2 linked regions of the Homo sapiens genome follow. The protein of the gene in region 2 purifies or fractionates together with the protein of the main gene of each other region. This does not show direct contact. Each region holds a gene or a part of one and is shown on either strand. Other genes may lie near its edges.

What was found.
Region 1: the proteins of TMEM218 (region 2) and TMEM231 purify together in Homo sapiens (affinity purification with mass spectrometry; one large-scale study listed by BioGRID and IntAct). This does not show direct contact.

Annotation. Positions count from the first base shown.
Region 1 is NC_000016.10:75,542,658-75,546,483, forward strand, and holds part of TMEM231 (transmembrane protein 231), read right to left. Parts: intron 3,421-3,826; exon of another isoform or gene 3,298-3,420; coding exon 3,169-3,297; intron 2,839-3,168; coding exon 2,695-2,838; intron 27-2,694; coding exon 1-26. UniProt on the Homo sapiens protein: Transmembrane component of the tectonic-like complex, a complex localized at the transition zone of primary cilia and acting as a barrier that prevents diffusion of transmembrane proteins between the cilia and plasma membranes.
Region 2 is NC_000011.10:125,104,880-125,108,705, forward strand, and holds part of TMEM218 (transmembrane protein 218), read right to left. Parts: intron 1-3,826. UniProt on the Homo sapiens protein: May be involved in ciliary biogenesis or function.

The sequences.
Region 1 (3,826 bases), on a different chromosome or scaffold from region 2:
GGGCTGGTCCCGTTGATCACGGATATCTGGGACACGGGAGGAGGATGTGGTGTGAGCACCTGGGAGACTCCTCCCCTTTTCCTTCTACCCTTCTGCCCACCCAGGCTGGTCCCACAGAGCACCCTCTTGTTCTTGGTGGCCTACTGCAGTATCAATAATCTTTTCTTCAAAGATGAATAAAACAGGCTGCTGCCCACCCAGGCTGGTCCCACAGAGCACCCTCTTGTTCTTGGTGGCCTACTGCAGTATCAATAATCTTCTCTTCAAAGATGAATAAACTCTCTTGCAACAATTTAAGCCCATTTACTCTCAGTCTTTCTTTCTGTGGATGGAAATAAGGGGTCAGTGTCCATGTTTTACAGGTTTTAAAGCTATTTTTAAAATACCCCTCTTTATCTCAGCGGGAGAAAGAATTCCTTAAATTATTTTAACAGACCGTATTTTCGCCAGGTGTGGTGGCTCATGCCTACAATCCCAGTGACTTGGGAGGCTGAGGCAGGAGGACCACTTGAGGCCATGAGTTCAAGGCCGTAGTCAATGATGATCATGCCACTCACTACACTCCAGTTTAGGAAACAGAGAAAGACTTCATCTCTCAAAAAAAAATAAAAATAAAAAAAAATAAAAAGCCAGGCATGGAAGCTCACGCCTCTAATCCCAACACTTTGGGAAGCCCAGGCAGATGGATCACTTGAGACCAGGAGTTCGAGACCAGTCTGGCCAACATGGTGAAACCCCATCTCTACTACAAAGAAAACAAAAATTAGCCAGGCGTGGTGGCATATGGCTGTAATCCCAGCTATTCAGGAGGCTGAAATCAGAGGATCTCTTAAGCCTGGGAGACAGAGGTTGCAGTGAGCCGAGATCATGCCACTCCACTGTAGCCTGGGTGACAGAGCAAGACTCTGTCTCAAAAATAAAAATAAAATACAAATAAAAACCCCTACACAAAGACAAAAAAAAGAAACCATACTTCCAACTCCTTTGTCATTTTCTTGGTCTTTTCTGGGTGCTAAGTTCTTTATCACTTTTAAATATAGAGATATAGATAAAATGCAAACCATAAGCATATAATCCCTTAAAGGAGGAAATAATTGCTTGCTGTTAATGTAATCTGATATATAGACATTCAAACAAAAAGTGCCATATTCATTTCATATGTTGCAGCTTCCTATTCTTTACAACTTATATTGATTATAGTCAGAGCAACAGTAAAACCCACTATATATCTACAAGTCTGGGTTTATGGCTGTAATAACCGATAACATCCCTTTTTCATTTTCAGAAGTACCTCAGCTCAACTTCTATGGTCCCCATTGTGATAAAATAAAAGTGAGGAATGAGTGATTAGATGCATGAGTTCTGCACACAGACAGGCTCTGTTATCTTTCAAGATTTGAGCCTTTGGGAAAATTAATCACTTTAAGCCCCAGTTACGTCTTCTGCAAAATGAGTTCATTATTTAAACAAGTATCTCTGTGAGCTTACCATCTGCCAGGCAGTGTGCTAGGCACGGATGTGATAGTATTTGAGATGCCACTGCTGTCAAGGCTGAGGGAGACAGCAAATAAACACACAAACACATATCCTGAGTAGGCCAGGCGGCAGGAGGGAGAGTCTGGCTGAGGAATGGTGGAAGGAGGGGCTGCTACTGTAGAAGCAGGTCAGAGAAGGACTGGGCTTGGGGATATCTGAACAGGGACCTGAATGGCATGGTCCGATAAGCCACATGGATGCCTGGCAGAGGAAATGGCAAAAGCAAAAGCCCTGAGGTGGCAGCTGCTTCTTGGGTTTGAGGAACAGCAAAAAGGCCAGGGGGGCTGGAAGGGAGCAAGCGGGGGCAGTGATGGGACAAGTGGCTGGAGTGCGGGGAAAGGACAATGCAGGCAGCTCAGAGGTTGCCATGATGATTAAAGGAGATGATATAGGTAAACGCCTGCACTCAGGGGTGGCATATGTTATGAGTTCAGTAAACTATGGCTAGTAATATTTCTGAAATACTTTACATGAACATTTTACATCATCATTTTACAGTGTCCTTCGGAGTACATCCTGCGTGTGACCAAGCGTGTGTATGGAAGACACAATGTGTGTGTGTGCACCCACGTGGACCTAAAAGCAATAAGCAATTTAGTTCTTCGACAAACACAGATTTTGTTTCTCTTCCCTTCTAGGTGTAACTATGCGTGTACCTTCTCTGTAGTTTGAAAAAATTCATGGCAAGAATTCTACAGAGACCCTCTTTGGTGCCACCCACAAAGAAATGATATTTCTACTTTTCTTTTCTTTTTCTTTTTTTTTTTTTTTTTTTTTTTTGAGACAGAGTCTTGCTCTGTTGCCCAGGCTGGAGTGCAGTGGCGAGATCTCAGCTCACTGTAACCTCCACCTCCTGGGTTCAAGCAATTCTCCTGCCTCAGTCTCCCAAGTAGCTAGGATTACAGGCACGCACCACACGCCTGGCTAATTTTTTGTATTTTTAGTAGAGACAGGGTTTCACCAGGTTGGCCAGACTGGTTTCAAACTCCGGACCTCAAGTGATCCATCCGCACATCTCCGCCTCCCAAAGTGCTGGGATTACAGGTATGAGCCACTGCGCCTGGCCTGACATTTCTACTTTTCATTCCCCTCTTTAAAGAACTTAATGAACAGTAACACAGAGAAACAAAGGAGCTGGACAATGAGAAGCGCTCTTACGTTGTATCGGGCATCTAGGCCACCACAGCTCAGCGGCTGCTTCTGCTGCAGCCTCAGGTCTCCGTTCACGTATAACTGGGATCCCGGGACAGGAAAGGAGGACTGGAGAAACGCCATGCTCTGCATCACGAGGGTCGCCATCCTCTGAAATCATTAGAAGGACCAACAATACCAACCGCCATCAGATCTGAAGGGCTCTGGGTGCTAAGAGTCACCTGTCTTGGCTGAAACCTAAGAGGCCCTCACATACCTAGCGTAGCCATGCAGGAAACACTGCCTAGAACCTTCTGAGCTATTAATAGCCCATGTCAGTTAATATGACTAGTGAAAACCATTCCATTGGCCTAAGTTAAATCCCAAACTACATGGGGAAGAGGGCCCGCTAGAGTGCGGGTCTTCTAGAAATCAGAAGAAGGACTCTGGTCTACTAAAAAGACACAAGGGAGAGGACAGCCTCCCAGCGGACTGACTCACGTGTAATCGATAGGAGAAAGTCAGGATGAGCTGCACACCGAGAACGTGCTCCGTGGACTGCAGGGGAAGCTCCAGCTTAAAATGTAACATGTCCGTCTTCCCATCCTGGTTCCTGTCTTCTTCTCTAGTCTAGGAAACCCAAACAGGCCCAGCAGCCCTGGTCACTAATGAGTCTGGGAGGAATCCACATCACTTCTGTAAATACACAATGACCCACTGTCTTGCTGTACACAACAGGCATTATCTCCTCCACTAAAAGAGAAAAGCAGATAGATGTAAGTGCATTAATACTGGGGAGAGACACAAAGTGCATGGTCCCTGAACTTCATATCTGGGCCTTTCAAATGTTCACTGGCCAAAATAAATGGGCAATAACAAAAAACATCTGGATAGTATTTGTGCCTTTCAGTTGTCTCATGTGATCTTGCTTATTTTGCACTGATATTTTTTTCTTTTTTACAAATATGCCTGAATTTGTATGGAAATTTTAAGTAGCATGTCAGAATAGTCTTCTATGTCTCTAGAAGTCAACTTGTTAAAATAGAAAAACACCTAATCCTAATCATTATGCATTCCTCCAACAAACTCAAACTCAACAGAAAATCACCAAGCTCTATTTTTTTTTGTTTTTTTTTGAGCCGGGGTCTAACTCTATCGC
Region 2 (3,826 bases):
AAGCAATAAAGAAAAATCATTAAGTGCTATAAAAAAATGTAACTCAAGGCCTGAGCTGAGCCTAAAAGTCTACGAGGGTCCTGGTGCCTGATACAGACCTTCAGGGTGATTCTCTTCAGGGCAGATAAGGTCTCAAGCCCACGATGGCAAAGAACTAGCAATGAGAACAATGCAGAAAGCTGGGCCCTCACAGGATTGACCAGTTTTTGAAATAGGGTCTAAATAATTTGCTACTGACTTAGTTGGAAGGAAGCTGGCTGAGTGCTTCAGGCCACAGGTCAAAAAACAACAGCCCAAGAGAAATCTGAATCCCCACCTCACATCATATCCATGTGTGAGATTCAATACTACCGATGTGATATGGGAATCCCAAATAGAAAGATTAACATGAAAACTAGACTAAAAGTGAGAACCCATTGGATCCCAGCAGAGACAAAACTAAACCCACAGGCTGGCATGCAAGACTCCCTCAAGAGTAAGTGTAAAACAAAGATGTTTTCAGACATACAAAGGGTGAAATGTAGTACACCTCTCAAGGATCCTCAGTGAAAGGGCTACTCAGAGACATACTTCAGCAAGAAGGAAAATGAACCAAGAAAGGAGGTATGAGATACAGGAAGCATGGTGAGAAAATTATTAAGAAATATTGACAGTAAAGATTTCTGTAATAATGACAATTTTTGAGGGGTTAAAAATCAGAAAGGACTAAATATTACTCAACAGTTATATGGTAGATGGAAAAGGATAGTTCAAAGTTAAAGCATTCTACAGTGATTTTGTTTTGGAGGAGGTATATGTTTTTTAAGCTAAGTACACAAGTTAAAAAAACATACAGGTAAACAGCAAGCAACAGAAATAGAAAAAATAGCTTCTATACTAGTAAAGTGAAAAAAAAATAAAGAAAACAGAAAGTGGGGCAAGGGTCAGTGGGTGTGAGGTGGGTGGCAGAACAAAGAATACGCAAGGAAAATGGAAAATACAAAATAAGATTGTAAAAATAAACCCAAATACAACAGTAATCATAGTACATGGAAACATTATATTTGACTACTAAAAGAAATTCTCTTAGATTTTTCTTTTTAAAAATAGCTGTGTACAAAAGCTCTACAGAAAGTATAATGAGAGGCTGAAAATAAAGAGATTGAGAAAGACATGCAAAGCAAATATTAACAAGACAAAAACCAGGGAAGGAGGGAATAGGGAGATGGTGAATGAGTATAGAGTTTCAGTTTTGCAAGATGAAAGCATCTTGGAGCTCTGTTTCACAACACTGTGAATATACTTAACACTGCTGATCTGCACTCTTAAAAATGGTTAAGACAGGAAATTCTGTTTTTTTGTTTTTGTTTTTGTTTTTTTATAAGCCACAGTTGAAAAAAAACCAAGTGAAACAAAATAAAATATAAGCTATGAAGCAATATTAGTACCACGCAAAACAGATGTAAAGCTCTGAAAAATATTAAGAACAGTGACAAAAGGAACCATTCAGTAAAAAGATACAACCTGAAACAAATGTGAACCTAACAACAAAACCTCCAAATATATAAAGCCAAAACTGACAGAAGTACTACAATAAATGTATAAAACCACTAATTTAGCAGGAGATTTTAATATATGTCTCAGAAACTGATAGATCAAGCAGATAAAAAAAGAATAAACACTTGAGAAAGAGGATACCTGAATGAGAATAAATATGTAAAAAGGTGCTCAACTTCATTAGTCATCCGGAAATTGCAAATTAAAACCAAATTCAGTGCCTTCATATACCCACCAGAATGGCTAACATGAAAACAACAGACAACAGCAAGTGTTGACAAAGATGTGGAGTAACTGGAACCCTCATATACGGCTGGCAAGGGCCATAATTTGTTAACCACTGCTTTGGAGACTATTGGCAGTATCTAATAAAGCTAAATATAAATGCATCCTACATCCAGCTCTTCTATTCTTAGGTGTATTCCCAACAGAAACGCACACCTAAATTCAAAAAAAAGACATTGCAGCCCTACCTGAAATAGCTAAAACCTTAAACAATCCAAATATCTGCCAATAGAGTGGATATAGTACTCTACAATCTATTCATTCATACAGTATATAAAGCATTATGTAGTATAAAGCAATGAGAATAGTATAAAGCAATGAGAAAGAACACACTACAACTATACTCAACAATGTGGATGAATTTCACAAATATTAAATGAAAAAAGCTAGAGGCTAAAGAGTTCATAGTATATGAGTCCATTTATATAATGTTCAAAACAGGTCAAACTAATTTTAGGGGCTGGAGGTCAGGCGTATGGTTGGCTTGTGAAACATAGTGACTGTAGGAGGTTCAGGGAGATGCTGATAAAATTCTGTTTCTTGATCTGGGTTTTGTTCACCTGGGTTTGTTCATACGGTGATGTTGTATCTAACCATGCACTTAGGATTTATATACTTTTCTGTATGTGTATTACCCTTCACTAAAATGTTTACAGAAAGAATATTAAGAGATGTATCAGCCATGTGTAGTATATGGACCCTTATTTGGTCCTGATTCGAACGAAGCATTGCAAAAACCTTTTATGAAATGATTGGGGAAATCTGAAGAATATTCAGATATTTGATAATATTATGAAATTACTGTTTGTATTTTCAGTGAAAAAACACTATTAAAAAGATGATATTATTATATTGTTAAAAGATTATTTATGATAAAGATATATGCATACACACGTAGCACATTACAGATAACAGAAAAGGGTTTCTAGGAGCTTTCTATTACCTCAGTGAGAGGAGGTGAAGGGGCTGACATGAAACAAGACTGGTCATGAGCTAGTTGTTGAAGCTGGGTGATGAGTGTGTAGATGTTTGCTAGCCTATTTTCTATATTTCTGAATATATTTTAAACTTTCATAATAAAAAGATGTGGATATGTGTGTATATATATATATATATCTGCATAAATATGAATATAAAAGATGAGTAAGATTTGTATAGCTAAAATTATAAAACTTTATCAAAGACAAAAAAAAAAAAAAGAGAGAGAGAGGACCTGAATAAAGAAATAAAGCAGACCTGAACAGAGAAATAACCTGTGTTCCCGGATGGGATGGTTCAATTAAAAAAATCTCAATTTTCCTTAACCTATAAATTCAATGCAATCCTAACCAAAGTCTAAAAACAATTTTTTGTGGAACTTGAAAACGGATCCTAAATTCATATGGAAGAGCAAAAACCCAAGAATAGCCAAAACAATTTTGAGAACTAGGATGGCAACTTGCCTTTCTTGTTACCAACTGCCGCAAGACACATTGAAAAACCAAAGTAATTAAAACAGTGTGATAGTGGCACAAAGACACATGGCCCAGTGGTATAAAATCAAGAACCCAGAAACAGATCCATGCATTTGTGAGAACTTCCTACAGCACAGAGTTGGCTTTATGATTCAATGGGTAAAGAACTTCATAGATAGTGTTGGGACAAATGATTCTCCAATAGGAAAAGAATAAAACTAGATCTCTATATGATATACAGAAGTTGATTTTAAATGGAAAGTAATTCGTAATGAAATAGCATATGTTTAAATATACAAATGTTCAGGCTGACTACACTAGAATACATAATGAAGTACAGTAGTCAGATGCTTGCACCTAAACTTAGAATCACCATGAATGCAAAAGCTTCAAATGCAGACTATGCAGGTGTGTTGTTCTGGCAACTCAAATACCACGAGCTGTGCTGCCTTCAGTTATGTGATTTGCTAGAGTGATGAACAACTCTTGTTAAAGTTCCAAACCACAAATAAGTATAATTTTCCTCTGATTTACATTAGAGTTGCATTCCT